Linked DNA regions of Homo sapiens: regions 1 and 3 are each linked to region 2. Evidence: fine-mapped expression QTL. A gene starts in region 2. Each other region holds a variant in brackets. All regions are shown on one strand. Distances are between the middles of the regions.

What was found. PIP is the estimated chance that this variant, and not a neighbour inherited with it, causes the effect. A credible set is the group of variants that fine-mapping cannot tell apart.
Region 1: its variant is the best candidate, but not a certain one, in a credible set for the expression of PID1 in whole blood (TOPMed, PIP 0.56).
Region 3: its variant is the best candidate, but not a certain one, in a credible set for the expression of PID1 in whole blood (INTERVAL, PIP 0.60).

What each region holds. Positions count from the first base shown.
Region 1 is chr2:229,408,683-229,418,869 of GRCh38, reverse strand. DNER (delta/notch like EGF repeat containing) reads left to right here. Exons shown (of 13, transcript NM_139072.4): 9 at 640-762. It overlaps LOC107985994 (a long non-coding RNA gene), which reads left to right and starts at 7,620. Exons shown (of 3, transcript XR_001739917.2): 1 at 7,620-8,659; 2 at 9,095-9,337. RefSeq lists a silencer at 5,336-5,554 and an enhancer at 9,826-10,187. The variant A/G (reference allele first, on the strand shown) is at 4,886.
Region 2 is chr2:229,266,114-229,276,300 of GRCh38, reverse strand. PID1 (phosphotyrosine interaction domain containing 1) reads left to right here and starts at 5,014. Exons shown (of 3, transcript NM_001100818.2): 1 at 5,014-5,287. The coding sequence starts at 5,258.
Region 3 is chr2:229,301,696-229,311,882 of GRCh38, reverse strand. No RefSeq gene overlaps it. Among named protein-coding and RNA genes, the nearest start is that of PID1, 36 kb to the right of the region's middle. The variant A/G (reference allele first, on the strand shown) is at 5,121.

The DNA of each region.
Region 1 (10,187 bases), 140 kb before region 2:
GGCTCACTGCAACCTCTGCCTCCCAGGTTCAAGTGATTCTCCTGCCTCAGCCTACTGAGTAGCTGGGATTACAGGCGCCCGCCACCACGCCTGGCTAATTTTTTGTATTTTTAGTAGAGACAGAGTTTCACCATGTTGGCCAGGCTGGTCTCGAACTCCTGAGCTCAAGTGATCAACCTGCCTCGGTATCCCAAAGTGCTGGGATTACCAGCACTTTGTGGTGGCATGAGCCACCACACCGAGCCAGGTTCTCACTCTTGAAGGGAGCTGTTTGCTCCTCCCCTGCCGTAAATCCTGCTCATTCACTATCTCTGATGGCCACAGCAGACACACTCAGTGACTGGATCACCCTAACACCAGCACTGTTGGATGCACTATGATGAAAATGTCAGTGGATAAATGGAATCACTTCTTTTATACTTGGGATCATGAAAAAGTGTGATAAGAACAGGCGCTTTCTTCATAGCCTTCCCCCAAATCCACCTTTCAACTTTACCCCAAGAGATCTAGCTCCTGAAATCCCATCTGTTTATACCATACTTTCTAATGAATACCCCCAACTGCCTTCCTTGCAGGCTGGTCCCGCGTGGGTTGTAAATGGGATGCATTTGACAGTGGGCCTTTCTCTCTGTCCCTCAGGTTACCATGGCCTCTACTGTGAGGAGGAATATAATGAGTGCCTCTCCGCTCCATGCCTGAATGCAGCCACCTGCAGGGACCTCGTTAATGGCTATGAGTGTGTGTGCCTGGCAGAATACAAAGGTGAGAGGCCGCCTGGCCTTCCTGTGCCAGAATGGCTCTAAATGACGTCATGTATTTCTCAGTGTAAATGCATAAACCTCTAATTGGACCATGAATTGTTCAGAATAACAATCAAATGCTGAAGCTGGCATGATTAATCGGTCCAAGGAGACCAATTTGCAAGTCTCTGGTTTCTTCCTGATAGATTGAGAAACAACCCCCTTTCCTGTCCTGTTCTTTGTGGATCCTCGCTTTCTTTTTTATTGAATGTGTAAAAAGCTGAAAACAAAAAGTAATATTAAGATGGACTGTCAGACATAGGTTAGAGACCATGGCTGTGAAAACTGTGGAAGAGGAAGGATGCCGTCCTATAAAGCTTCTTATGCAGAGATAGAATGCTGTGCTTTCTTGGGGAGGAGGCAGGCGGAGTCCCATGTATCAGCAAGTAAGTTAATGCTTATTAAAAACAGGCGACATTGACAGAGTGTTTCCAATGTGTGGACCCCGTTCTAACCCCTAATGTGCATAGCTCACTAAATCCCCCCGAGAACCCTATGAGGTGGACAGTAATGCTCTTCCCCTATAAGCCTGGTCAGCGTGGTTCCTAAAGCCCTTTCCCAGCATCTTCACTGGCCTCTGGCCACGTTTTGTGGATGGCAAGGCTTCCTGGAGCCCAGATATCCTCAGACGGCCCTGTTCCAGGAGAACCTATTTATCAGCTGTTGCACACATTTCTCTAAGCCATAACTACGGGGCCGGGTTTAGATTTTGGAATGCGTTTGTGGGCTCTATTTATAGCCATTTCATTCAACCGCTTGCTCCTATTGCTGCTTGCTTGATGCCATCCACCTGGCTGGAGACCTTGCATTGCCCTCACCGTTGCTTCTCTTTGGATGAACCTACCTTTATTTAGTAACCTTTTTGGCAAGTCTCATGGCCTTGTAGGCTACACTGAAAACTTGATTAAGCTCCTGGATAAGAGGGCTGAAGCTGGGCCAGGTCTTGACTTTGTGTTCCACAGATCTGATGCTTCTGTTGGAGTATGACGTTCGGTTAGAACCAAACTCCACTAACATCTACCAGGACACAACAGCAGATGTGCTGGCTTCATTCTCAGGCTTCTCAGTTCTGAGTCTATCTATCTATTACCTTTCTCTCTACATATCTTCAACCTCCTTCTTTCCCCTTGCTCCTTTCCATGTGTATAAATATTTTCATGGATTTCTTACTCTGAACAAATGAAGATTCTAGGAAGATGGCAGCTCACATTGACATTCAATATCTCTGATCCCTCCTGACTCTCTGCTAGGGATGGCTCAATAAGGTAGATGACCCTGAATGGGGTCATCTGAAGATTTGGGGTCTCAAGAAAGGGTATGTGTGCTGGGAGCCTTTGCTTAACCACAAGAACAGGGGATGAGGGCTCCAGAGAGAACTGATGACTCAATGAACAGATTAGTCCAAAAAAATCCTTCAGCTTATAGAGAGGAAGTGCATGCTGTAATTGTGCTGCGTCTGACCCTAGGAGGCAGAGGGGTGTACTGATCTCATGGCTACGGGCTGCTGTCTAAGGAAATTGCACAGTAGGCTGAGCTGGCCCCCCCATTTTTTGTGGCCTTGAGAACACCAAACTGGGAGGCCTCTCTCTGCCTCATGCCTTAGTACACAGGGCCCCATTGGCTGCCCATCCATCCCTGAAGGGGAATGTGTTATGTTGTCTGTCTCTGCCAAGATTTCCACCCACTAGCCTGGCCAGTACACTAGCCCACGCCAGCAACTCAGAGAGGGAGAAAAGTTTTGGGAAATAAAAACAAAAATTGCAACAACAGCTCTAAACACTCAAGAAAGGAAGTGAAGAAAGTAATGTACACTACTCAAAATTGAATTTGGATCTGAATAAAAAGGAGGAACTAGTGCATGAGAGAATCAAAATATGAGGAAGTGGAAACCACGAGTGAAAAGACAGGAAACATGGAGAAAAGATTTGAGAGATCTGCTTCTGCCTGAGCGATGGGTGCTCCAGAAGAAGGAGCATGTGGAAATAGAAGCAGAATTAACTAACTCCTAGAAGGAGGTGTCTGTGAGGTGAAGAAAGTCTTATTTTCAAATAGAATGGGCTCACAGGGCAGTAATGGGATTAATGAAGGAGATGATACACAATTTGAGATTTCCTGGTAAAATTTGTAACTGCAAGGATAAAGAGAATTTTTTACAAGATTCTTCGAAGGGATCACAGGTTACATACAGAAGAAAGAGAATCAAATCGGCATTGTACTGCCCCTCTCTATCATGAGGTAAAGAATAGCAGAGCAGCGTTTCAGACTTTTAAATGAAAAGGACTAGGAGTTTGTTGTTTATATTTGAGGGCAAAAGAAAGACATTGCCATACATTCAAGGATACAGAAAATATAGCACCCTATACCCTAAGATAAGTACCTTAATAAGCATCGCCACCAAATAGGAACTAAATCAAAACAAAGATATCCAGATAGGGGAAGATGGAGAATGGAAGGAAGAGATGTATGCCTTTAAATGCAGGCATAAATCTAAATATTTGATATTTATGTGATTGTGAATGGTAATATAATGGTGAAGGAAAGTCTCTTGAAAAAAGTAGATCCGCCTTCTGTATCAGCTATCTATTGCTGCATAACAAATCAGTACCCGGTACTGGCTTAAACAACATGCTTTTATTACCTAACAGTTTCCTAGGTCCAGGTGTGGCTTAGTCAATTCCCAGCTCAGGGGCTCACAAGGGTGAAAGCCAGGTATTGACTGACTGAGCTCTCATCTGAGGCTTGAATAGTGAGAAATCAGCTTCCAAGTCCCCTTAGGTTATTGGCAGAACTTATATCCTCGTGGCTGTAGGATTTGTGACAGCTTGCTCTTTGAAAGCTAGCAACTATGACAGAGACCCCACTGCTTCCAGTCTTGAACTTCCGGGAAGGCCTGGACTTTTTTTTTTTGTGATGGAGTTTCACTCTCATTGCCCAGGCTGGAGTGCAATGGTGTGATCTCGGCTCACACCAACCTCCACCTCCTGGGTTCAAGCGATTCTCCTGCCTCAGCCTCCTGAGTAGCTGGGATTACAGGCATTCACCACCATGCCCAGCTGATTTTGGATTTTTAGTAGAGACAAAGTTTCTCCATGTTGGTCAGGCTGGTCTTGAACTCCCGACCTCAGGTGATCCACCTGTCTTGGCCTCCCGAAGTGCTGGGATTGCAGACATGAGCCACTGCACCCAGCCTGGACCCTCTTAAAGGTCTCACCTGGTTAGGCCAGGCCCACCTGGGAGGAACTCAAAGTCAACTGATTAGGGACCTTAATTGCATCTTCAAAATGTCTTAACTGCCATTTGCTCTTGGTTGGAAGCTCACACTCAAAGGGAGGGAATTACACAAGGGTGTGACTCCCTAGGGGTCACTCTAGGCTGTGTCCACCACTCTTGCTCTTAAGGAAAAATTTCAACAAGTAAAGTGGTTTCATATTATTTAAAACAAAGCCATGTGTTGAAGGGGGTGAGGATAGGAAAGACTGAAAGGCATACAAGTGTGTTAAACATTTCACTCCTGGCTTGGTGTGGTGGCTCGCACCTGTAATCCCAACACTTTGGGAAGCTGCAGTGGGCAGATCACCTGAAGTCAGGAGTTCAAGACCAGACAGTGAAATCCCGTCTCTACTAAAAATACGAAAATTAGCCAGGTGTGGTGGCGGGTGCCTGTAATCTCAGCTACTCAGGAGGCTGAGGCACGGGAACTGCTTGAACCTGGGAGGTAGACGTTGCAGTGAGCTGAGATCACACCACTGCACTCCAGCCTGGGTGACAAATCCAATGGGCAGATAAAGTGTTTATTTAATTTTAGTATATTTATAAAGACTTTTAGGTTTAGGTTTAAATAAGGCTGCTGAAAACAGGGAGGTAAACCCTAGTAATGTAGCAGTAAATGGTAGAACTTCTAAACTAAGAGTGGTGGGGACATGGGGAGGGTAGGTAGAAGGAATTAAAGGAGAGACAGGAGGATCTAATCATGCTCTTCCACCCAGAGGAAGAGTGAGGGGAAGTGAGAGGCCACATGATCCTGTGCTTTTCTCTCCGTGGGGGGATGGACATTTTCCCCCTTTTGGAAATATTTTTGCCAATAT[A/G]TATTTACATATCGTATGTCTGTATACATTCAGGAAACTGTCAGATGGATGGGTTTAAATTCCTAACTAGTACTTACCTGGAGTTAGAACTTAGATAGGTAGTATTTTAGGGATAAAGTTAAGCTTTAACTTTTTACTTTATATATATACTTTTTAAGTGGTAATTTTTACTGCTTAATATTGATATTTTTTAAACTATATATATAGTTTTTATATTTTTAGGAGGATATATATAATATAACTATATATAACACTATATATATAACACCCTCTCTATGTATATATATTTATCCTCCTAAAAAGAATGAGTGCAATAGGGAGTCAGCCAAATATATAGCTAAGAACATTTTGAAAAAGGAAAAAAGGCCGGGGGCGGTGGCTCACACCTGTAATCCTAGCACTTTGGGAGGCTGAGGCCGGCAGATAATGAGGTCAGGAGTTCGAGACCAGCCTGGCTAACATGGTGAAACCCCATCTCTACTAAAAATACAAAAATTAGCCAGGCGCTGTGGCACATGCCTGTAGTCCCAGCTACTCAGGGGGCTGAGGCAGGAGAATCACTTGAACCCGGGAGGCGGAGATTGCAGTGAGCTGAGATCGTGCCATTGCATTCCAGCCTGGGTGACAGAGCGAGACTCCGTCAAAAAAAAAAAAAAAAAAAAAGAAGAAGAAAAAGAAAAAGAAAAGCAATGAGGGGGAACTTCTGCCAGATGTTGAAAAACCCACTATAATGCTGCAATTATTGTTACATTCATATATTACCCTAGCAAGAATGGACAGATAACCAAAACTGAAGAATGGCCCAGAAACCATTGTCTATAATAATAATGTAAGACTCTTAGAGAGGAATTGCTAGGAATGAGAAGGGAATTCTTTTCAAATAAGCCCTTCTAGAAAAACTGGGCTGCTAAAGAAAAAAAAAGTTCTTAGACTTCTAAGTAAATTCCATATAAATAATAATTTTAAAAACCTCTTCTTTGACTTTTTGTGTCCCTGCTGTGCTTAAAGTCCCTTTCTTCCCTTTTGCTTTTTCAACCATGGCTCTTGGCCCTTGTCCACATCATTCCACTAAAAGAGGTTTCAGGAAAATTCATGGTGAAGTAATTGAAGTCATTTGGTGAAATCTATGAAGCCTCCCCTTCCACTTCTGACTCAGCCAGCGTTCCTGTCCCTTTGCCCCACTGAGCCCTGGGGTCCCTCTTGCACGTCGCCTTGCTGTGTCTTCTGCAACTTCATTCCTGACGGGGTTCTCCTCTCTGCCCTCACTAAGTCTTGGTCTCCCAGATGCCATGAATGACGTGGGTCTCCAGGCCCCTTTCTCTCTCCCTCCTCTTTGCTTTCATCCACTCCTATGGCTGTATCCACTGTCTGAAATGTTGACCCCCAAAGAGATGTGGCTTCTTCCTCCTTTAACTCTCTATTTTCTTTCTATTTGCCATGACAATTATGTTTAGCCTTGTATTAAATTCTTTTTGGTTTCAGACTTTCTTCTTCCCTATACTAAATCATAAGCTCTGGAAAGACAGTGACTACATAGGCTCTTTTTCTTTTTAAATTCTCTACAGCTCTTACTATGGTGGCTCGCACAGAACAAATGCTCAATGGCTACCTTTACTTGAGTTAGAACTACTGTTTAACACATGAATTAAGTAAAGGAAACCAACTTAAACATTTTCATGGAATGTAAGTCTTCACTGTAGATTATGGAATTGTTAGAAAGCAAAATTCATGGAGGACCTCTGTGTAACCCGTCTTCAGACAAACCAAAATACTGCTGTGTCCTTCAAAACTAGTTCAAGCCTGGTTTGTGACGGAACGTCTAAGACTTTGTTAAGTGTTCATACCTCATATTGTCAAAAGGTTAAGGAACAGCCCCATAGTGATTGATTTTTATTTCTAGAAGATCCAATGAAATGATCAACAATATATATATTTGAAATTTTTGGTGATACAATTTAGAAAAAAAATTCGATTTTTAATTTTGAAAATAATATAACAATAATAAATATTTAGAAGAAAAGAGAAAATTCATAATTACTCATGTTTTTACAACATAACATGAGCCATAATAATCTGTGTTGCTTCCATTCTGATTTTAGTATCCATGTTTTTACTGTTCAATAATTGAGTATACCTACAATTTTATATTGTTCTGCTCACTCATAATAGGATATTATGTTTGATTTATGTATTGCTAGGAAGTCTTACTAGTTTTATTTTAAATGGCTTTGTAATGTTCCCATGAGAGAATACTTATCCATTGCTTTGTTGTTACATGTGATGTGGGGCTATTACAAATATTTCTGGAATTAATATCTTTACATTGTTTTCCTACTTTCCAGATTTCTTTCTAGGGATAGAGTCTCAGAAATGAGATCACTGGATTATAGATTTAATTACATTGTACATTGTACCTACTTTTTTTTTTGAAACAGAGTCTTGCTCTGTCACCCAGGCTGGAGTGCAATGGCGCTATCTTGGCTCACTGCAACTTCTGTCTCCCTGGTTCAAGCAATCCTCCTGTCTCGGCCTCCTGAGTAGCTGGGATTACAGGTGTGTGCCACCATGCCCGGCTAATTTTTGTATTTTTAGTAGAGACGGGGTTTCACCATGTTGGCCAGGCTGGTCTCGAACTCCTGACCTCAAGTGATCTGCCCGCGTTGGCCTCCCAAAGTGCTGGGATTACCGGCGTGAGCTACTCTGCCTGGCCTGTACCTACTTATTTATTTTTAAAGGCTACAGAAATTTTAATGGGAAGGAAGAGAACTCCTTCTTTGTTGGATAAAGTTATTGCCTTTGCTAGATTCCACTTAGCCAGGGAACAAGAATTTCTGGTTATTTTGTGCACCTAGTCCTTTCAAGTACTGTGATAAATACAAAAAGGATAAGTCAGAGTTTCTTCCTTCTTTGGGCTGTTATTTAACCAGACGAGCAGACTGAGTGACACACACAGGAATAATGAGGCTAAGGCTGAGATGTCAATTGTAATTTCTGAGATGGTTTAGAAAATGTTGAGATCTATAAAGATTGAAATACTGGAAAAAGTTTTCATAGAGGAAGTAAGTTTGGATGAAATGAGACGATGTCTTAAAGTAAATATTAAGTGTAATAACACTTCTTTACTGGCTTCGTTTCTTGGAGATAAAATATTGATTTTCATTTTTCAAATATTAATTGTAACTAAATTTGTTACAACAACAAAGACTTATAATTGGTGTACTGCTTTTTGAATTCTAGCTTATTTCAATTCTAAAATTAACTTCTGTAAAGAATGCTGTTGGAATCAAAGTCTTTTTAGAAACATTTCTTCTCCATCCCTTAATACGAAAAGTATGAATTTTTATTAGTTTTGACTGAATTACAGTTTATTTTTGCTTGAGACTAAACATCAGCTTTGTAATAGTACGTGCTGTGTCTTCTGCCAATGGGTGATGCATGTGTCATTCCACAGACTTAGTTTGAAGTGTGGACCTGGTTTTCTCTGACAAAATAGGGTGTTTTTGAGGCAGATTTGGAATTTGGAATCTCTCCTCTGGCAGCCTCACCTGTGTGTCAGCCAAAGTACACTGGCTGTCGCCCCTCTTGAAAGGATAGGATTCCGGTGTTAGGTCCATAATTTCTTCCACGCATTATGATACGGCCTCTGCTCTACAGGACTTCAGAGATTTGTGGGAGAATCAGACAGGAGAGCAGATAAGTTATGATTTGGCACAGTGAACTCCGTGACAATGACAGTCCCGGCATGCTCTCAAGGCACAGTGGTGGAAGAATGTGGTCTGTGTTGAGAAAATCAAGGTTCAGCTTTGCAGAGAGAGGGTGTTTGGATTGGGAATTGAGAGATTAGTTAAATATGCGAAGATCAGGTTGGGGGAAGGGTGTGAAAGAAGGTGACTCCTCAGAGGAAACAGGATGCCCAAGACTTGATGTTTTCTGGGAATGGGAGTGGTGAGGAGGGCAGGAAGAGGGGGCCTAGGGACCTCCAGAGGAGGAGGGTTTGAGTGGATACAACTTGGCACATCAGTAGTGTCCATGATTGTCTATTCTCCGTGTTTAAAGTTTTTAGCTCAGAGTTGTTCAGTTCTAATGACAAGCTGAGCAATATGACAAATATATTTTATATAGGGATTAGCAAGGTTTACGATATAGAAATGTGAGTCACCAAAGTGCTCTCCAGGGACTTTTAACACCATCTTGCTTGTCCGTAATCAGGTTTCTGTGAAGATTAGCTTTTGTCCAGTCTTGCTGCCAGAGAACTCTCAATAGATGCTCAAGGGACCAAATGTCTCACCATTTGAAAAAGAAAATTAACAAGGGAAAAAAGTATTGTCTCCCCGCCCTCCAAAAAAGAGCCATCTATCCAAACAAAAACCCCAAACACCCAAAAGATTGAAATTGCTTATTATCTTGGGTGTTTTCATCAAGTCTTATTTTGTTGAAGACTTTAAATAAAAGGTAAGATGCTTAAATATTTGGCCTAGAATTTGCTTTTCAGTCTGGTTTTTAAAATGTGGTAGTTTGGGTGCTAATATGTTAGTGATGTTAATGTATTACTAGAAACTCAGTGACAATCATTTGATTTCTTTGACTTCAGGTCTAATGGAAATGTTTTCTAGGCTTCAGGCACCTCTGAACTTTGGTGGTGGCCGTATTTCCCACTACAACCAAAAGTCTTTTTTGTCACTTGGCTCCCATTGATCAGCCCAGTGGGAACTTGTAAATATGTGAGTCTTTGTGTTGCAATAAACATTTTAAAGCAGAAAAGACTCTTCTGCTTTTTATTCTTTCAATTGAGCCCAGGCTACTTGTGTATCAGTAGGAAAGTAAAAATAAGAGACTCCTGGGAGAAGAGGCTGTACACACCCAAATGAAGAAGAATGACCAGATTTATGCTAATCTTAACATTATTTTGATCTTTTATGTTACCATGCAACCTGGGTTAGGGATGAAGGAAGTTGAGGAGGCTCGTTCAAGTCCCTGGAGACAGAGGAAACTAAGACATGGCTGCGGGATGCTGTATCCCACCAGGCACGAGGCAGTGGGATCACAGGGGTGGTCTCAGGAAGGAAAGAAAGGCAAAGATCTGAAAGACACTTCAGAAAAATACCTGACAGAATATTGTTGATGGCTTGGCTAGGAGGGGCAAAGGATGAAAAAGAATTACAGGTCATTTATTCTAAAATTTGAGCTTTACCTGGCTCAAATAAGTCATTAGTGTGAATATAGATAGGAAGTTCCATTTCTATTTTCTCTTACTTCCTTTCCTCCTTCCTGAGCCCTATTCTTAAGGCATTGAGAAATAAAT
Region 2 (10,187 bases):
GGGCCCACACAATCTGAGACTAGGATGGAGGTGTGTATGAGGGAATTGTGAGAGCAGAAATAAAACCAAAAGAGGAAATAAGTTTTTATGTTAGACTATTAGGCTTCATTTTACTGCTAACCCTGATCAATTGGTTGTTAGGAAATGTTGAGAAGGGTGTGTTTAGCGGGAAAGACAGACACTTATTAGTGATGTTTTCTCTATCAGTTTTCTATTATTACCTAACAAACCACCCAAAACTTAAGGGATAAAACCCAACCTTGTTATGTACTCATGATTCTGTGGGTCAGCAGTTGGCAGGTCTCAGCTGGGTGGTTCTTCCACTGGTGGGACCCACATGGGATCACCCATGTGGCTGCTGTCGTGTAGTGGCTTGAGCTGGGTGTTATGAGATGACCTTACTCACATATCTGGCTGTGGGTGCTAACTCATGGTCTGACCTCCCTCTGTGTTGTTCTCATCTTGAGGAGTCTAGTCCAGGCTCCTTCATAGGATGACTTATGTTCCAAAAGGGTGAGAGCAGAAGCTGCAAAGTGTTTTGTGGCCCAAGCTCAGAAGTTCCACAGTGTCACATCTGCTGCATTTTATTGGTCAAGTATGCCACAAGTCCAGCACAGATTCAAGGAATGTGGACAGATTGCATCTCATGATGAGAGAAGCAGGCAAGTTACAGTGCAAATGGGCATGACTTCCTTGGGGAGGGGAGATTTTTGTGGGCATTTCTGAAAATAATCTATCAGGTGTCTAAGGTTTGTGAGGATATGAGGAGTCAAGAGTAGGAGAGTCACAACACACGAATGAGCCAGTCCTACCCTGTTAAGCGTCATCTTAACATCCCAATACATTCCTATCACTCTGTAGGGACGAAAGCCAGTGGTTCTGTCACTACTGGGAGGTTTAAATGGTCGAATGAATTTTCAGACTTTTTTATATTGCTCATTTATATACAGCTGTTTTGGTGATTTTGAAATAAGGTTAGTGATACCATAACAAGGGCTTTTTAATGATAATTCTGCTAAATACACAACCATAATAAATTTTGCTGTCATCTGCTTAAGTTAGAATTGTAAGTGGGCCAGGTATGGTGGCTCATGCCTGTAATCCTAGCGTTCTGGGAGGCCAAGGCAAGTGAATTACTTTAGCCCAGGGAGCCTGGGAAACACAGCAATACTCTATCTCCATAAATTTTTTTTTTAATTAGCTGGGTGTGGTGGCACAAACCTGTAGTCCCAGCTATTCAGGAGGCTGAGGTGGAAGGATTGCTTTGAGTCTGGGAGGTTGAGGTTGCAGTGAGCCGAGATCGCGCCACTGCACTCCAGCCTGGGCGATAGCGTGAGATCCCATCTCAAAAAAGAAAAAAGAATCGTAAGTGAGCTTGAATATCCTTTGTCATTTTTATTTGAGAATCTAAAGCAAATAATTGAAACCCACAAATATTCCAAATGGAAATAGTGTAACCACAAGAAGCATGGGCCGCTTTGTGAGAATTGGATCATTCCAATAATAAAAAGAGAAAGAAACATAATGGGGATGAAAACGAATGTTTCCCACACACCTACCATGTGTCAGGCATGCTGCACATATTAATTCATTCACTCCTCCCCAAAATCCTAAGTATTAAGTAATATTATCACCCATTTTATAGAAGAGAAATCTGAGGTTCAGCAAGGCAAATGACTTGTGAAAAGCTGATACCTAGGTAGACAGTTCGAAGGCTGGGATTCAACCTGAGTCTTCTGCTTGTCCTAGCTCCTTTCCAACATTTACTGAGATTGATAAATATTTTATACATATATTCAAATTATATACATTTTATCCTACTTTAAAAACCATAATTGTATCATTTTCAGCTGCAACACAACTTTATAATTATCCTTTTAAATGCTGCATAATATTTTAATATTTCTTTGATATGCTGGACCATACTTTCATTCACCATTACTCTGACTTGGACATTGAGGTTGCTTATGCTAGGGCTCAGAACCATGAACTAGATCAAATCTGGCTTAACACAATTTCTAGGGATGCTGTAATTATTTTTCTGAACCAAATGTGTGAATAACGCATCTGTGCCTTGTCAAGCTTTTTTGATTTCTGTCATTTGCCTTCAAATGGTATTTATTGACAAGATTAGACCTGTTTCGGTAATTGCAGGAGACTAAGTACATGAAATTAGGCACACATTTACATGCCTAATATTTCTACTCATTGCACCAAAACACCTTCTGCTCATTTTAAGGGTGGTTTCTTGCTCAGAACAAACCTGTTTACATCGTAAGGCAGCATTTTCAGATTCACCAGGAAGGATGAGGTTCCAATGTCACAGAACAGAGCTGGGAGACATTGGCATGCAGGTCTCATCTCTAGCCAGCAGATGTCTCTATTTCATTCACCCTTCATTGCAGGCTCCTCCTGAATGGGAAGACTTGGGAGCAAAATCTATGAGTGGGAGGTTGTCCCATCCTTTTGTCACCTCCCACAAGCCTGCAATTGCCCCTCCTCCACCCCCTCCCCTAGCTTCCTGATTCGTGGCATAAAGGTAATTGAAACAGGAGTGCCATTTGAGTTTAAATACATTCTTTACTTTACCAAATCTGTTTGCAAAGTGGGAACGGTAACTGAAAGCAATCTTTACAGAGCCAAAGCTTTTTCTCTTTAAATAGCACCATACTCCGTACTAAAAGCTGTATTACTGAGTCATAACAATTAATTACGTTTGGAGGTGAGAAGACAGGATTTAACGCTCTAATGCGATTTGAATTTAGGCCGTTAACTCATTCCACTGCTATTTAAAACAAAATCACTTTTCCACGGAAGCATCTGCAAGCAAGGATGGTTTCAGAGCTTAAGTCTGAAGACATCCCTGGCAACTGAATATTCCTGTTTTAGCTTCCTGGGGGGGTTGGGGGGTGGGGTTTATATGCATGTCTGGATTTTCTAGATTTTTGTAATGAATTGCATTTCTTTCTACTTTGGGATTTGATAAAAGAGAACTGGGGGCTGGGAAGGTCATAAGGAATTTTGTAGGTGTGGAGGTGTGCAGGAGGAGTTACCGGAAAAGCAAACAGAGACCATATCACCAAGCATGTGAGGCACATGTCTGTGCGGGCTGACAGGCAAACACCTCATGAAAAGAGATTTATTAATAAGTTCAGAACAAGTAGCAGGAACTGGAGAAGGAGCTGAGAAGGTTCAGGTGGTTATCAGGCAGGAGTGGGAGGGTCCTGTGGATATCCAGGGAGACAGAGACAAGCTCTTCAGAGGCAGCTCTGTGGCTTTGCCAGAGGCTCCTAGAGGCACTGAGGGTCCTGGGCTTGCCAAGGCTGGTGGCACCAACATAGCAACCGCAGGGTCCAGAAGGATCTGCCTGGAATCCTGGATCTGAATCGCCATTGTAACTCCCCACAGTGTGACTCTGTGAACCCTGTGCTCCCCAAGCCTTGGGAGATAGGGGCTTCTGTCCCACGGAGAGTTGCTGCGAGGGTCCGATGAGCTGAGGGTTAGATTCTGGAGTGGTTCCATATCTGGAAATCATTGTAGTCATGCAGAACAAGGAAAATGGACAGATCCTCCTTCCAGACATGGAGTGTGGATTTTGACATTGCATGAGTAGCTCACGGCCCAAGCTGTGCAGCTGTCTCAGTATGAAATGCCTCTCTTTCACACCCCTCTGCTCTCAGGACCCTGCCTTGTAGGAGCCTAGGGCTCCCCACAAACATTGTGTTCTCTCTGCTCCTCTCTTTGGTCATTCTATGTCCTGAGTTCTTCCCACCATGTTCTCCTCTCCCACTCTTCATCAGCTCGAGAATCAGCTTAGTATCCCTGACTTGCCAAGTGCCTTTAACCCCCAGCCCTAGACGGATGCTCTTTCCACTGGGTTTCCATGGTCAGTTAGAGGCGCAGGGCCACATCTCCTGCCCTGAAGTCATCTGACTGTGCACTCTCTAAGCCACTCACTGGCTGTGTGACCTGGACAAGTGACCTAAACCTTATAAGCCTCATTTGTTTGATCCACATGGTGAAAATATTAATAGTTATTTTGCCGAGTTGTCAAGAGAATGGGAAGGGCTGGCCTGTTTAGGACAGGAAGTCATCTCATGGTGGCCGGCACTAGCCGGGGAGCCTCCAGGCCTGCGAGCCCAGAGCGGCTTTCCCTTGGGTTCTGAGAGCCTCCTGCTGCACCTGGCAGATCTCAGGATGAGTTAGTGATTCGGGAGTCTGCATGGCCCTCCTCACCCCTGTATAGGTTAGGAGTCGAGTCCTCTCCCCATCATGAAGCATGGCCTCTTCGTGGCCAATCCCTCTCATCTCTCAGGTCTTACTCCAGGCATTCCCCAGGGCCCTTGTCTAAGAAGCTCTCCTCTCCCCTTCTTCCCACATCTGCCCTGTTTTATCACCACCCGATATAGCACCGGCTTGTTGATGTGTTTGCTCAGTCACGACTCTCTCTCCAAAGCAGAAGGTAAGCTCCAGAGAGAAGGAACATTCTCTTGTCTTCTATTCTGCGTCGCTGCATCCTCAGAACCCAGCATAGGGGCTGGAGCCTAATAGATGCTCAGTTAACTGGAGTGGGAAGAATGAATGGAAGTGTCTCCCTAGCACAGCGCCAGGCACAGCACAGGCACTTCAGAGATGCCTGTTATATGGAAACCCGGGACCCCCGGGGCTACGGTTTCCTTATTTTAGGAATTTCCCCCACCCCCGCCACCCCCGACATCCCCGCTGCCCCCACCACCCCCGGCTCCAGGCCCTTCCCCCCTCAGCCAGTCTGTCCCTTTTCCCAGACCCCAACCCAATGGGGGCTTCCTGCAGGGAAGGGCCGGCTGTTCTAGCCTCCCCATTCACCCCTCACTAGGATTTAGAGTCGGCCGCGCTGCACTCCCGCCCCGCGCGGCCCCTGGGCGCCCGCCCCGGGCATGCTCAGAGCGCGCAGGTCCGGGCGGCGGCGGCGGGGGAGGAGGGAGCGGCCGCCCCCGCCGCCGCCGCGCGCTCGCCGGGCCCGGGCGGAGCTGCGCAGTCCTCTCGCAGCTGCGCCAGGACAGCCGGCGCGCGGCCGTGCCCACAAGTTGCCGGCAGCTGAGCGCCGCGCCTCCTCCTGCTCGCAGCCCCCTACGCCCACCCGGCGGCGGTGGCCAGCGCCAGGACGCACATCCCGCGGACACCGACCCCAGATGTAAAGCGGGACCCCAGCCCCTCGCCCCCCGGCGCGATCGACAGTCTCGCCAGCGTCTCCTCTGCCAAAACCCAGGGCTGGAAGATGTGGCAGCCGGCCACGGAGCGCCTGCAGGTAAGGGGCACCCGGGAGCCGGGGGCCAGCCTGGAGGAGGAGGTGCCCGGGCAGAGGAACCTAGTTTTTGCTTCTGCCTACTTTAGGGGATTTGCCCAAAACCATCTTGTAAGACGCATCGATGGCAACATGATGCTGTCGGTTTACCCAGCGCCAGGAACCCGGCAGGGGTATGGGGATGATGAAATTGATAAACGCACGGGTTCAGGCGTTACAACTTTTGGCTTGGAGGTGCTTGTGTGCGTGTTGGTTGGTACATATAAGGTTGGACTTTCTGACTGGCAATTTAGATTGCATTCCACTGACACAATGCAGTGGTCTGGGGTTAGGATTTTTGAAGCCAGATTTTTTTTTTTTTTTTTTTTTTTTTGTGGTCACCAGGAAAGACAGAACAAGTGATATGTGAAAGCATCCATTTGCCAATATAATGTGGAAATATCAAGCTTGGTTTGGCTTGGTCATGGTATGCTACTTATTTTATTTTTCCCTATTCATTGGTTCTCTCCCTTTATCTTCCTTAAACCCAAGCTCCTTCAGATATTTAAGAATCAAAAGTAGGTTCAGCCAGGAATATTTATGTCCTGGGTTATCCCATCAAAAGTTTTTTACTGCTGTCTCCTGAAATGCCAGACTGCCTTGAATTGGATTCTGGAAGCTGGGGATTTGCGGGAGGCGATTGAAGAGAAAGAGGGACCTTTCCCAGAAGAACTCCTTCAGTGACACGTTGGGCCTTGGGATTGCCCTGGTTGCAAGGTTTGAGGACTGCCTTTTGCTGGCAAATATTGTCAAGAGTCACGGCAGCTACTCTGCCAGATAAAATCCACTGAATCCTGCAGTTAAACTTTTGGCAAGCTAGGAGCCACATTGTTTCGTAGTAAACTTTGAAGACGTGTTTAACTGGTAAAATACAGCACCATTGGAGGCTGAGTGCATCTGAAGACTTAGGACAATGAGGCCAGGCCCTGGCTAGGTTGGAGGCTTCTCAATGAACATTTACAGCCCCAAGCACAGTTTCTCAGATGCAGGGAGAGGCTAACCTTTGTCTAGGAGTCCTCATACAGAGGAACAACCCGCAGAGGGCATTGCATTTAGCAGAAACAGATGCCCCACAGCTCCTTTCCAAAGCTCCCTGGGCCATGATTTGCGGGGAGTGTGTTCAATTTATCAGAGCCTGAGACACCAGACCAGTTCCCCAGGGTCTCAAGTAGAATAAACAAGAAAACCTGCATTTAGCCTTGCAGATGAGGAGGTGGATGACCAACCTCCTAACCCCCTCCTTGTCTTACTAAGAGAATATCAGCACTGGGCTCTGAATGACTGATAGAAGGTGATGTAAATATATTTTGGCAGTGGCACCAGATACCAGTGGCGCATTTGAAGTTCTCCTTCGGTTAAAGGCGTAACTTCTATTCCAAAGGAGCAGAATGATTGAGGGGAGCTGGCAGGTTTCCTGTTCAAGTGCAGAGGGTAGCTTTTGGAAGTCCTTAGAGAGATGTGACCAAAATTCCTTGAGGTGGCTTTTATGGCCTGATGATCTGTACCTCTGAAGAGTTTGTAGATTTTTGACTATTCAAGTTCTTCCTACCGGCCTGTTTCACTTAGGGAATCCTGTGCGCTCTGGAGCATGTGACCCTTGGCAGGTGGGCGCTCTCGCTTGCCTTCCCATAGAGATTGCTCCTCACTAGAAATGTCTCCCCCTTATTTTGTGAAATGTGCACGTGTGCATTTTGGCGTGAGCCTGGTTTATTGCAGTTGGTGTTTGCAATGCGTTTATTTTATTTCAAGGTGTCATGTTGAAAGAACCTGTTTTTAGGCTTTTGAAAGCTCATATAAACAGGGCTTATCACCAATAAGACCGAGTCACTGTTGGAAGGTCCTTACCAACAGGGGGCTCAACTTCATGCTGCCCAAATTTCGATGAGTCTCTTTTGAAAGTACATACATCTCAAGCCTTGAGATTAGAGAAGTGAGACAAATGCGGAAAAATTTTTTTATATCCGTGGCTTCTTCCCAAAGAGTATTGCTTGACTCTCCTTGAAAACACATAATTTATATGTTTTTACTTTTGCCTCTGAGAGAGCTGTTGAGGATGAGATGGTGAGTGAGCTGCTTATCATATTTTATTTACATTCCTTGTGGTTATCTTTGTCACAATCTCTGTTTGCTGTCTGGGGTTTTTTCCTTTTCTTTTCCTTTCACCGTGATATAGAAACATGCCTGTCCGATTCCTCAGTGAGAAGCCACTTTGCCACTCCCAGGCTCTGTGGCCACAGAGATAGCAGTGGATATCATGCTGGATAGGAAACTTGAGAATGAGTTCTGCTCTTTAATGATGTCTGAGCTCCATGTGCCTTTCACAAATCTTTATAAACCTTCTCATTCGACCTCATTAATTTTTTTCTCATTTATCTTTAATACAAACATTCTAATTTAGATGAGCCAGAGTGAAGAAAATTCGTCAAGGAAACATTCCCAGAACTTCCTAATAGGACTAAGGAGTCAATTTATTTTATCAATACCTAGAATCAAAAGAGGGGATGGAAGAAAATAACCAGACCCTTTCTTGATGATATAGTTCATATTCGATGAAGCTGGTTTGAGAAGTCTGTGTCCCAGGGGAGTGTGATAGATCTTTGCGTAGAACAGTCACCCTCTAAATAATGGACTTTTGAGTGTAGCAACTGGCTCCGTTGCTCAGGAAATGGCATCTTTGATCAGGTTTGATTATCATTATTGTTACCCACACTTCTGTGTCCCCACAAAATGATGCTGATATTTTCTGATTTGAGGTTTAGCTGTTTGACCCAAATCCAGCACAGGCAAAGGGACCTATTGCCCTGAGCAGAGCTGCGCTGGGTAATTTCTCATTCAGTCACACAAACCGAGGCAAGTTCATCTGCTCCCTTGAATGTTAAAACTTCTATTGCATCCCACTCGAGCCCTCGCTGGGAGCTTCTGCCATTAAAAATATAATAGGATCAAAAGGGATGTGAAGATTTAATTTACCACCCCAACTTTTTACAGTGAATAAATATGAATTCTTCTCTTTTCACCTTCCCGTCTGCACAGCAGACTTTTTTTTTTTCTTGGAGGTATTGAGGAGTGTTATACATTTTTAAAGAAGCAGATTTGAAACAGACTCCTTTCAGAAAAGTAAAGGAGACTTTTCTGAACAAATAAAAACCCTACTGGTTTTTATGAAATAGAGATGAGATTACCTCTGGCCTTGAAATTTTAAAATTTGTATGAGTTTCTGGATTGACTTGATGATTGTACTGGGTGGATCCCTCAGAAGTAACAAACCCATCCATGCAAGACTGTGTCCCATCCATAGGAACAAGTATTTTCTCAGAGCAAATGTCTTCACTGAGCTACCAGATGCATTTTCTGGAGGCCTTGATAGGAGGAGAAAGATGAATCAAGACTGACTTAGAAACGAAGGAGGTCAACACATCCTTAAAGGTCTTTGGTGTAGTTATTACTAGGATAGAGTGGAATGTGATAGGCGTATGAGTTCTAGCAGATTCTAATTGTGAAGTTTACATGTAACCATCTTCTCATGAGGCATTCTATAAAGGTTCCAATATAATCATCTAGCTGTCTTCACTGAGATTACCATTTCTCCATGGCAGATTCAGAAAAAACAGCTTTTTATTCACAAAGCTGGATTTGAGTTTTGCAGCCTGGGCAATTTTTTCTGTTCCATCCATTACTTCCTTTTTCATCCTCGTTGTGGCCAATGTCTGTGTACTAGCACTTCCACAAGAGGGAGAAACACAGTGAAGAGTAGGGAGGACCCCAGATCCTGAAAAAGCTTTCTTTTGGTTTCTTCTGAAACTTTTGGTTGATGAAGTGGTTGAAGTTTCCAGCTAAATACTATTTGGGGATTTTAGGAGCCAAAGTCCTCCTCTGAGGATTATCTCACCCTTTCTCTGCCTTGTCCTATCTGGTAGATGTTGTCTTGACTTGGAGTGTGGATCGTTCTAGATTTTTCTTCTCTATGATGATGCCACTTTCACTTTTCCCCTGAGAAGTGAGACTGGAGAACCCTCTAAAACGTCAACTGGAGACCATTAGCCCTGGCCCATCAGGCAGGGTGAAAACCGGCAAATCTGATACTTTTCCAGGCTGACCAAATTGACAAAAGGAGCAAGGATTAAGAATGGGAAGATACTAGTAACCTGCTTTTGTGGTGCAGGCACTGTGTGTGGCACTGTGCCGAGGAGCTTTATTTTAACTATCTGGCTCATTTGCATCCTGTAACCACTTTTATCCGCATTTTAGAGAGAAACTGAAGGCCAGAGAGTCGAAGTGATTTGGCCAGCGTTGAGCAGCTAGAAATGAACTGAGCTGGAGTTTGAACCAGACAGTTTGGTTCCAATCCTTACTTCTTAAGCACTTCACCATAGTGCAGAAGGATAAGACAGGCACAGTGCAATGTACATGTTGGTGCTGTTGTTATTAATAAATACAGTTAGAGCAATGACTGTTTTGTGGGCTCAGAGAGGCTGCTGTCCTATTTCTTGCTGAAGCAGTGGGTTGACCAAAGGCTACTCTGTTTTTGGTGGCTCAAATCTTTGGTGGCACATAAGCTGCTGTCTCCTATTGAAGTTAAAATTCACAAGTGCCATTGAAGAGCTTTTCAGCTGAAGCACATAGCATTTATCCAAACTAGAGACCTTGAAAGCCGGTGATTAGGGTGGATTGTGTACACATTCATTCCAAGTTTAGACAAAAAAAAAATGGGGAGAAGGAGGGAGGAGGTTGGAGATTTTCAGAGCGGTTGCTTAGAAAAAAGCAACAGCTATTATTACAGAGGCACAGGTTTCTCACTAAACCCATTCTAGATTTTGTTGTTGTTTTCATCAATTGTAGTTGAGTAAGCACAAAACATCGGGCC
Region 3 (10,187 bases), 36 kb before region 2:
ATTCTTTAAGCCTTTTAAACACTTTAAGTTTTGCTTCCTTGAACACTGGCTGGTAGAATTGTCCTTTCCACATTTCTTTCCACTTTCTTTTTTACTTTCTGCTTCTTGAAGTTCATCTTTTCCTCCCTCTGCCTCTCAGAACCCGAAACAGTGTTGAGAATGAGGTAAGATATAGCAGGGATGGTATGGCTAAGGAGTAATGAGAAGAAGGTATATCTCCCTTCTTCCCTGGGCTCAAAAGTTCTGATAAGAAGAAAAAAAAAACATAACATACTTCTTAGTGTGGCTTTATGAATCTGTGTCATATTTTATAGTCAGTACAGGTGTTATTTTGCCTTTTTATTGAAAATGTTACTAACTTTGAGGACTGTTTCCCTTTTAGCCCGTTATCCACTGTTCAGTTGAAATTCTGCTTTCTTTATTCAACATCTATTTATTGAGTCTTTGGTCTATAAATGTGTAGTCACTGATGACCACTGTGGTGAAGGCAGGGCAGCCACACTTCATGGCCCCATCAACACATGTGTCAGGAAGAGATTTGAGTACAGCATCCCATCGATCTGTGATGGCTTAAGCGGTAGGAGAAAAGACCCAAGAACTTTTATGGCTGTGACCTGTTGACTTCTGGCCAACCCTTCTTTATTTATCTGATAGTGCAGTCAACCAAGACTCCATGTGTTGATTGTTCTGGGTGTATAGGCTTACCGTGCAAAAGACCCTGGCCTAGCTCAATTTCATTCCCACTATTAGTTTGTAATGCAACCTCCATACTATGCTTTACCCAGTGACCTCTAACCCTAGTCAGTGTGATTGGTGAACTCTATGCTGGGTCCTGGAGGAGCCAGAACCACAGAAAAATTAGAAGGGAAGGCAGGCTGGGCATGATGGCTCACACCTGTAATCTCAGCACTTTGGGAGACCAAGGTGGATGGATCACCTGAGGTTAGGAGTTCAAGACCAGCCTGGCCAACAAGGTGAAACCTCATCTCTACTAAAAATACAAATATTAGCTGGGCATGGTGGCACATTCCTGTAATCCCAGCTACTTGGGAGGCTGAGGCAGAAGAATCACTTGAACCCAGGAGGCGGAAGATGGTGCCACTGCATGACAGAGAGAGACTCTGTCTCAAAAAAAAAAAAAAAAAAAAAAAAAAAAAAAAAAAAAAAAAGAAAAGAAAAGAAAGCAAGGCAGATAATCTGATCTGACTGCATGTATGAATAATCGGTTATTTCTCTTTTTGGTGGGGGAAGAAAGCCAATTGTCTAGTCACTTCCCCAATTGGCATTCACAATTCTGCTGCTTTCATAATCCTTGGGGTAAATGTAAAAAATATTTTTAAGTTCTGCAAATTTTATTGCTTGATGGAATTCCTTTCTTTTTTCCCCTCCCCCTGTAACAAAGACTTTAGCAAAACCCTTCTCTACAGGGCTGGGTACCACAGACAAGTATCTATGTAAGAAAAATCACAAAAATTAAGTGTAATTTCTATGGCTTAAAGACTCACCTGGGGTCTTTTCCATGCACATATTTGTTTGCTGGATTTGCTACGCTTCCTCTTGCCCTCATCAAGTTGATCAAGAATCACCTTGTTTAATCTTCTGATTTCATTGCTATATACTTAAAACAGTCATTGATCAGAGGTTCTCAAAGCATCAATTTATTGAAATTAATTTTAGTAAAGGCACATTTAGCAGAAGAATCAAATAGAGGCACTTGTGTGCTATGATGCTGCAATGAAGATGAAAAATCTGTACCAATAACAATAACTCTATAAACTTTCAAAAGTTTATGTTGACATAAGAAGAAGAAATGGCTTGATATTTGTCATATCAAGTCAATAATATAAAATTTCTAGGAGGATTTGTTAGTGAAAGAGCAATTTCAGCATTTAACCATAACGCACAAACTTTATATATCTGAGGAAAGACATGTTGAAGTATCACAGCAACAACAACAACAACAACAAAAAACCACACACACACACACACACACACACACACACACCACACAGACACACACACATACACACACACACACACACACACACAGAAAAGTGGATCCTTGTTTTTCCAATAGTTAACGGGTAAAATCTCATGAAAAGATGTCTTAGGTATGTTTGATTCAGCCCTTCCCACCATCACACTTAAGGATCACATACGCTGTGTGCATATGTGTACAGAGGCAAACAGTAGTGAGAATTATCTGAATTTGGTTTAAGCTGATGAATGTTGAAGGGCCAGAGGGCTCACTTACTCATGCCACCTTGTCCCTATTTCTGCTCTACCTTCTAGGAAGCCCTTTCTGACTTAACAGAAAAGTAACAAAGTCCAAGTGACATATAAACCATCACCATCACACTCATTTGTCAATATGTGATTTTTTGTGTCTGTGTACATTTGTTTGTAGAATTTAGAAGTTTGTCACAAAACTATCCTATATGTGACATTTAATCTGGGTGCTTTCTTTCTCTATCAATGTAATTTGGAGGCACTGCCCAAAGTTTAAACATCAGTCAGAATTCCAGTTTCCTGGCCGGGCGCGATGGCTCAATCCTGTAATCCCAACACTTTGGGAGGCCGAGGCAGGCAGATCACCTGAGGTTAGGAGTTGGAGACCAGCCTGGACAACATGGCAAAACCCTGTCTCCACTAAAAATACAAATATTAGCCGGGCACGGTGGCACATGCCTATAATCCCAGCTACTCAGGAGGCTGGAGCAGGAGAACCGCTTGAACCCAGGAGGTGGAGGTTGCAGTGAGCTGAGCCTGGGTGACAGAGTGAGATGCTTTCTCAAAAAAAAAAAAAAAAAAAAAAAAAAAAGATTTCCACTTTCCTATGTGTGAGTATTTACTAATATAATGAATCTACAGATACACCTTTTAAAATAGCAAGTCAAAGTTAAATATATAGAAAGTAACTTCCAAAGTTGATGTTTTACACCCTTTACAAAAATTTTATAAGTAAATAGATAATATAGGCTCTTTGTTTCATTTCCGATGATTAATATTGTCTTCTTTATTCCCTTAATCTTAACATGTCTTGGGTGAATTATAATCCAAGCCAGGCCAGATGGCCTTGAAAGTTTCTCCCCCGTGTCTGTTTGGATTTCCATCTTGTAGGGCGTCATTTCTGATTATCTACTCTATTTATTTTGCTGAGTCAGAGAATGTATATTTTTGAATTCTTTCATCTTTTTTTTTTTTTTTTTGAGACGGAGTCTCTCTCTGTTGCGAGGCTGGAGTGTAGTGGCGCATCTTGGCTCACTGCAAGCTCCGCCTCCTGGCTTCACACCATTCTCCTTCCTCAGCCTCCCGAGTAGCTGGGACTACAGGCACCCACCACCACGCCCGGCTAATTTTTTGTATTTTTTTTTTTTTGAAGTAGAGAAGGGGTTTCACCATGTTAGCCAGGATGGTCTCGATCTCCTGACCTCGTGATCCGCCCACCTTGGCCTCCCAAAGTGCTGGGATTACAGGCATGAGCCACCACGCCCAGCCGAATTCTTTCATCTTTTATTAGGATGATTAAAATTTTGCTTCTTTGTTTTCTGTGTTTCTTAGCACAGGTATTTTAGGCATTGAATTAGGTCTGATTCTAGAGGGTAAAATCTAGGGGGAAATGGGGTCACAGTGACTAAAAATAACTATGAAGCCAAGTTACATACAATCCTCAAGAGCCACCCTGAAGAGCCATTGACAGCTATTAAAAATTAGATGGTTGTTATTTTGCTTAAGCTACTTTATCCAAATGGGAACCAATTCAAACACCTTTTCTTTCTGCCTTTCAGATGTTCAAAATAAAGATTGTAAAGCTTAAATACAATGCTTTTAAAGAATATATTTTGGCCAGGTGCGGTGTCTCACGCCTGTAATCCCAGCACTTTGGGAGGCCGAAGTAGGCGGATCACAAGGTCAGGAGATCGAGACCATCCTGGCTAACACGGTGAAACCCCGTCTCTGCTAAAAAAATACAAAAAATTAGCCGGGCGTGGTGGCAGGCGCCTGTAGTCCCAGCTACTCGGGAGGCTGAGGCAGGAGAATGGCGTGAACCCTGGAGGCGGAGCTTGCAGTTGAGCCAAGATCGAGCCACTGCATTCCAGCCTGGGCAGCAGAGCAAGACTCTGTCTCAAAAAAAAAAAAAAAAAAAAAAAAAAAAAAAAAGAATATGTTTTAGTGTGCTTAGCCCAAGACAGAGAAGAATTTACCTATGCAGAGCTCTAAGTTCACTGAAAAAATTGGTTTTTATTTGACTTGATTTCTATAATGAATAAAGATTCTCTGGACTTCAGGAGAAACCAACTCGTTGGTCAGTGATAGATCACAAGAGCCACAGAATTTCTCATATTTCTCATGTGAACCATTTACCTGTTTAGTATAATCAGATACCACATTAATGTTTCCAGCAAGGAGATGACTTAGGAAATTCATGAATTATGCAATTATGTAAACTTCAAACATAGTAAACTAATTTTGGCTAAGGGATTCGGACCTGATTGATCCATGAATGATAGTTCAGACTATTTCTTCTTCATTTCTTCTTTTTCTTGTTTTTTTTTTTTTTTTTTTTGTTGTTGTTGTTGTTGGTTGTTTTTGGTAGGAGTGAGTGGGGGAGAAGGGGTAAAAGTCTGTTTAGAGTTCAGGCTTCTTGATTTTAGTCTATGACATTGAATTCTTTTAACATTTTGTATGGTGTATGGGTTGAATTTTGTCCTTTTCAATATTCACATAATGAAGTTTAACTTCCGGTCGCCCAGAATGGGACCTTATTTGGAAATAGGGTCATTGCAGATATAATTATTTAAGATGAGTTCATATGGGAGTAGGATAAGCCCCTAATTCTAATGTCATTATAAAATGGGAAAATGTGGACACAGACATGTACACAGGAGGAATGCCTTCTAAGAGACACAGGAAGAAAATGCCCATCCAGAAATCAAGGAATGCCTAAGCCTTCTAGAATCTTGGAGGCAGGCCTGGAACAGATCCTTTCCTATCATTGTCAGGGAAAGTATGGACTGCTGATACCTTGATTTGGGGCTTCTGGCCTCTAGAGCTGTGAGGAAATAGATTTCTGTTGTTCTAAGCCAACCAGTTTGTGGCATTTTGCTAAGGAAGCTACA[A/G]GAAATGAATACAGCTAGTAACAATCAAAATAGGAGGAATTACATTAGGATTCAATTCACTTTCATAGGAAAATTGTGACATTCATTCATTTTATAATTTTTCCTTGCTACCTGTTATGGACTTAATTGCATGCTTCCAAATTCGTGTTTGAGTTCTTAATGCCCTGTACCTCAAACTGTGACTGAATTTGGAAATAAAGCCTTTAAAGGGTAATTGAGTTAAAAGTAGGCTGATAGGGTGGGTCCTAATCCAATCTGGTGTCTATGTAAGAAAATTAGGTCAGGAATTCCTCATATATTTTGAGTATTAACTTTTTACCAGATATATGGCTTGGAAATACTTTTTCCCATTCTGAAGGCTGCTTTTTAATTTTGTTGATTATTTCTATTGCTATGCAGAGGCCTTTTAGTTTGATGTACTCCCACTTCTCTGTTTTTGCTTTTATTGCCTGTGTTTTTGGTGTCATATTCAAGAAGTCATTGCCAAGGACACATCCAGAAGCTTTTTCTCTATGTTGTCTTCTAGGAGTCTTATAGTTTCAGGTCTTATGTTTAAGTCTTTAATCCACTTTGAGTTAAATTTTGTGAGTAGTGTAAGAGAGGGGTCCAGTTTTTTTCTTTTGTGTGTAAATACCTAGTTTTCCCATTGAAGAGACCACACTTTCCCATTGTGTATTCTTAGAACCCTTGTCAAAGATCAGTTGATCATATATGCATGGGTTTATTTCTGGATTCTCTATTCTGTTCCATTGGTCTATATGTCTTTTTAATGTCAGTACCATACTATTTTAATCCCTGTAGCTCTAAAATCTATTTTGAAACCAGCAAGTGTATGCCTTCAGCTTTGTGCTTGTTTGAAATTGCTCTGGCTATTTTGGGTTTTTCGTGGTTCCATATAAATTTTAGGATAATGTTATTTTATTTCTGTACAAAATGCCATTGGGATTTTGATAGAAATTGCATTACATCTGTAGACTGCTTTGGGTAAGTACATTTCAACAATTTGAATTCTTCCAATCCATGAACATGGATGTATTCCCATGTACATATTTGTGTCTACTTTACTTAATTTCATCAATGTTTTATATTTTTCAGTATGCAAGTCTTGCACATCCTTAGTTAAGTTTGTTCCCAAGTATTTTATTTTTTGGATGCTATTGTAAATGGAATTTAAAACATATTTTCTTTTCAGATAATTCATTGTTAGTGTATAGAAATGCAACTGAGTTTTGTATATTGACTTTGTATCCTGCAAATTTTCTGAATTTATGTATGGCTTCTAACAACTTTTTTGTAGAGTTGTTAGGGTTTTCTAGATATAAGATCATGTGGTCTGCAAACAGAGATAATTACTTCTTCCTTTTCAATTTGAATGCCTTTTATGTATTTTTCTTGCCTAATTGGCCCTGAAAGTCCTAACTGACTAGGACTTCTAGAACCATGTTGAAGAGAAGTGGCAAATGTAGGTCTCTTTATCTTTTTCCTGATCTTAAAGGAAAAGCTTTCACTTTTTCACTATTGGGTAATGTTAGTTATGAGCTCTTCATATATGACCTTTATTGTGTTGAGCTAGATTCCTTCTATATCTAATTTGTTGAGTATTTTTAAAAGGGAGTTAAATTTGGTCGAATGATTTTTATGCATCTACTGAGATAATAATGTAATTTTTATCCTTCATTCTATTATGTCGTATACCACATTCATTGATTTGCATATGTTGAATCATCCTTGCATCCCAGGGATAAATCCCACTGGATCATGGCATATAATTTGTATTAAATATGCTGTTGAATTCAGTTTTAAGGTTTTCTTTAGGATTTTTTTATCCCTGTTTATTGGGGATCTTGGCCTGTGGTTTTCTTTTCCTGTGGTATTTTTGGCTTTGGTATCAGGGTGATGCTGGCCTCATAGAAAAAGTTTGGAAGTGTTCCTTCTTCTATTTTTGGAAGAGTTTTGGGATGATTCGTATTAATTCTTCCTTAAATGTTTGGTAGAATTCACCTGTAAAACCATCTGGTCCTGGGCTTTGCTTTGTTGGAAGGTTTTTTTTTTTTTAAATTACTGATTTGATCTCCTTATTTGTTGTTGATGAGGGTCTGGAGAAAAGGGAATCTGTGTACACTGTAGTGAGAAGGTAAATTGGTGCAGCTACTGTGAGTCTTCCTCAAAAACTAAAAATAGAACTACCGTATGATCTGTTGATCCCACTTCTGGATATATATCTAAAAGAATTGAAATTAGGATCTTGAAGAGATATCTGTCCTCCCATGTGCATTGCAGCATGAATCACAATAGCTAAGACACGGGAGCAACCTAAATGTTCATCAAGAGATGAACGGATAAAGAAAATGTGGTACATTCACAATGGAATATTTTTTAGCCTTAAAACAGAGGGAAATCCTGCCACTTGAGACAACATAGATTAATCTGAAGGATGTTATGCTCAGTGAAGCAAGCCAGACACAGGAGGACAAATATTATATGATACCACTAATATGATGAATCCAAAATAGTCAAATTCATAGAAGCAGGGAATGGAATGATAGCTTCCAGGGGCTGGAGTTGGGGGAGATACAGTCTAGGGGTACAGAACTTCAATTACACAAGACAAATATGTTCTAAAGATCTATTGTACAGCAATATACCTATAGTTAATCATACTGTATTGTATACTTAAAAATTTGCTAAGGGGGTAGATCTTATGTTAAGTGTTCTTATCACACATAAAATAATGATAATAATAAATAAGAGGTAGTGGTACAATCTCAGCTCACTGCAATCTCTGCCTCCCAGGTTCAAGTGATTTTCCTGCCTCGGCCTCCCAAGTAGCTGGGATTACAGACGCCCACCACCACGCCTGGCTAATTTTTGTATTTTTAGTAGAGACGGGGTTTCTCCCTATAGGCCAGGCTGATCTTCAACTCCTGACCTCACGTGATCGGCCCGCCTCAGCCTCCCAAAGTGCTGGGATTACAGAACTAGATCATTCTCAAAAATAAATAAATAAATAAATAAGAGGTAGGAGGAAACTTTTGGAGATGATGGATAGGTTTATGGATACATTGTGGTGTTGGGTTCATAAGATAAACGTATACTTAGCTCCAAATTTATCAAGTTGTATATTAATTATTTACAGCTTTTTGTATGCCAAAAATTAATTTTAAAAATTTATGATGTTATGATAAGCAAGTCAAAAATAATAGGTAGAGAAATAGAGAAATAATGTAATAATATATCGGTTCAACACATAATAATAAATATTAACACTGAAAATTAAAAAACATTAACATTGTTTTAAAAAGAGGAGATTAGATCATACAGAGAGATACCAGAGATGCATACACACAGAGGAAAGTCTGTGTGAGGTCAGAATGAGAAGGTGGCTATCCATTAAGCCAAGGAGAGAGGCCTCGGGAGAAACCAAATTTGCTGACACCTTGATCTTGGGCTTCCAAACTGTGAGAAAATATTTCTGTTGTTTTAGCCACACAGCCTGTGGCATTTTGCTAAGACTTTCCCAGCAGTTTAATATCCTACCTATATCAGCTGTTGATTGGTCTTATCCATTAATTAAAATGTGTTGAGTTATGGCCAGCATATGACGCATTTGGACCATACTTAGAATGAAGTAAAAATTTTGGACTTGGAAACTTATTTCTTCTAGTCAATCTATGCAAGAGTCATGGCGGCAATTAAGTTATCTATTTTCAGTGAAACTAACCTCCAATTCCACCTTCATCCTTTTCATCTGATGAAGAGACAAAATTCCTTGTATAGAGTAATGTTAGTTGTTTGTAGCACTAGCATTTTTGGTTTACGGAGCGTTTACTGTCTGCACACCTGTAATCCGTCAGCTTTCTTCTTAGCACTTTAATGAGCATGAGGGTCCGCTGTTTGGAATTTCCTCGTCCACAGTGGCTGATGAGTACAGTCCTAGGCCATTGCTGCAGGGACAGTCTGTGGTGTGGGGGCATGAACAGGCCACATGGGAAAACATCTTACATCCATGGACATCAGTGCCTTACATGATTGCCTCAGCCCTTTGTCTCCACAGTCTTAAGCCAGAGTTGTTCACATGCTGGGTTAGAGTTCACCTGTATTCCAAAGAAACTAAACATTCATTTTTGATCTCTAATTTTTCTTGTGATTTAGCACGTGCCTACAGGACAAGGAAACCCCAGTAAATTTCTCCACAGTTGTAGAACATTTGTAGGTTTGGTGATATCAGTCAACATCCCCAACTCTTAGGCATCTAGCACAGGTGACCCTATCCTTCTGACACTGCTCCACTTTCTCTTCTACCAGCTGCACATTCATCCTAACGTTTAACTGCCTGCTGTAGTCTATCAATATAGTCCAGCATAAGTAAGAGTAAAAGATCTCCCAAGTGTTTCACAAAACACTTAAATCCCGTACATCAGTTAGAGCACCCTGATGCAAGTAACTGAAGTGTACTCTGGTTAAGCTAAGCACAAACAAATTATAGGAAAGCTGTGGGAAGGTCACAATATTAAACAAATAAAAAAAAATAAAGCAACATGGAACAAAGCAATATCGATGACTAAAGAACCAGACGAAGAAAGAAGAGAAAACAAGTGACTCTGAAGAGTCTCGGTAGTAGAACTATATGAGTACTGTCAGGCTTTGCTGCTGGAATTCATCAGCTTCAACAAGCTTTCTTGTCTCCATCACTCTCATCCGATTCTACTTCTAGGAAAGGGTTGGGCTTCTGACCTATATTGGGTCACCTGCCTGCTCCTTGTCTAGAGAGCACAAGGCACCTTGGGTAACTGTTCCATCCAACTGTATTCAATGAGGTGGAGCCCATTCCGCAAAAGAAAATCAGAATGTAATTTTCCAAAAAAGGTAGAGAAGAAAATTGGCAACCCAAAGGCAACAAATGGAAACATGAGCGTCTTTATTATGGCAGAGTTATATGTGAGCATACCATGTTAGTTTGTGCACAGTTTAGTTAGTGCCCATCCCCTAGAGTGTCCCAGTCAGTGCTCCTTTCCAGACGGCAGCTGGTCCATGCGCACTGTCCTATGGACAGGAAGTGTTCCTTCT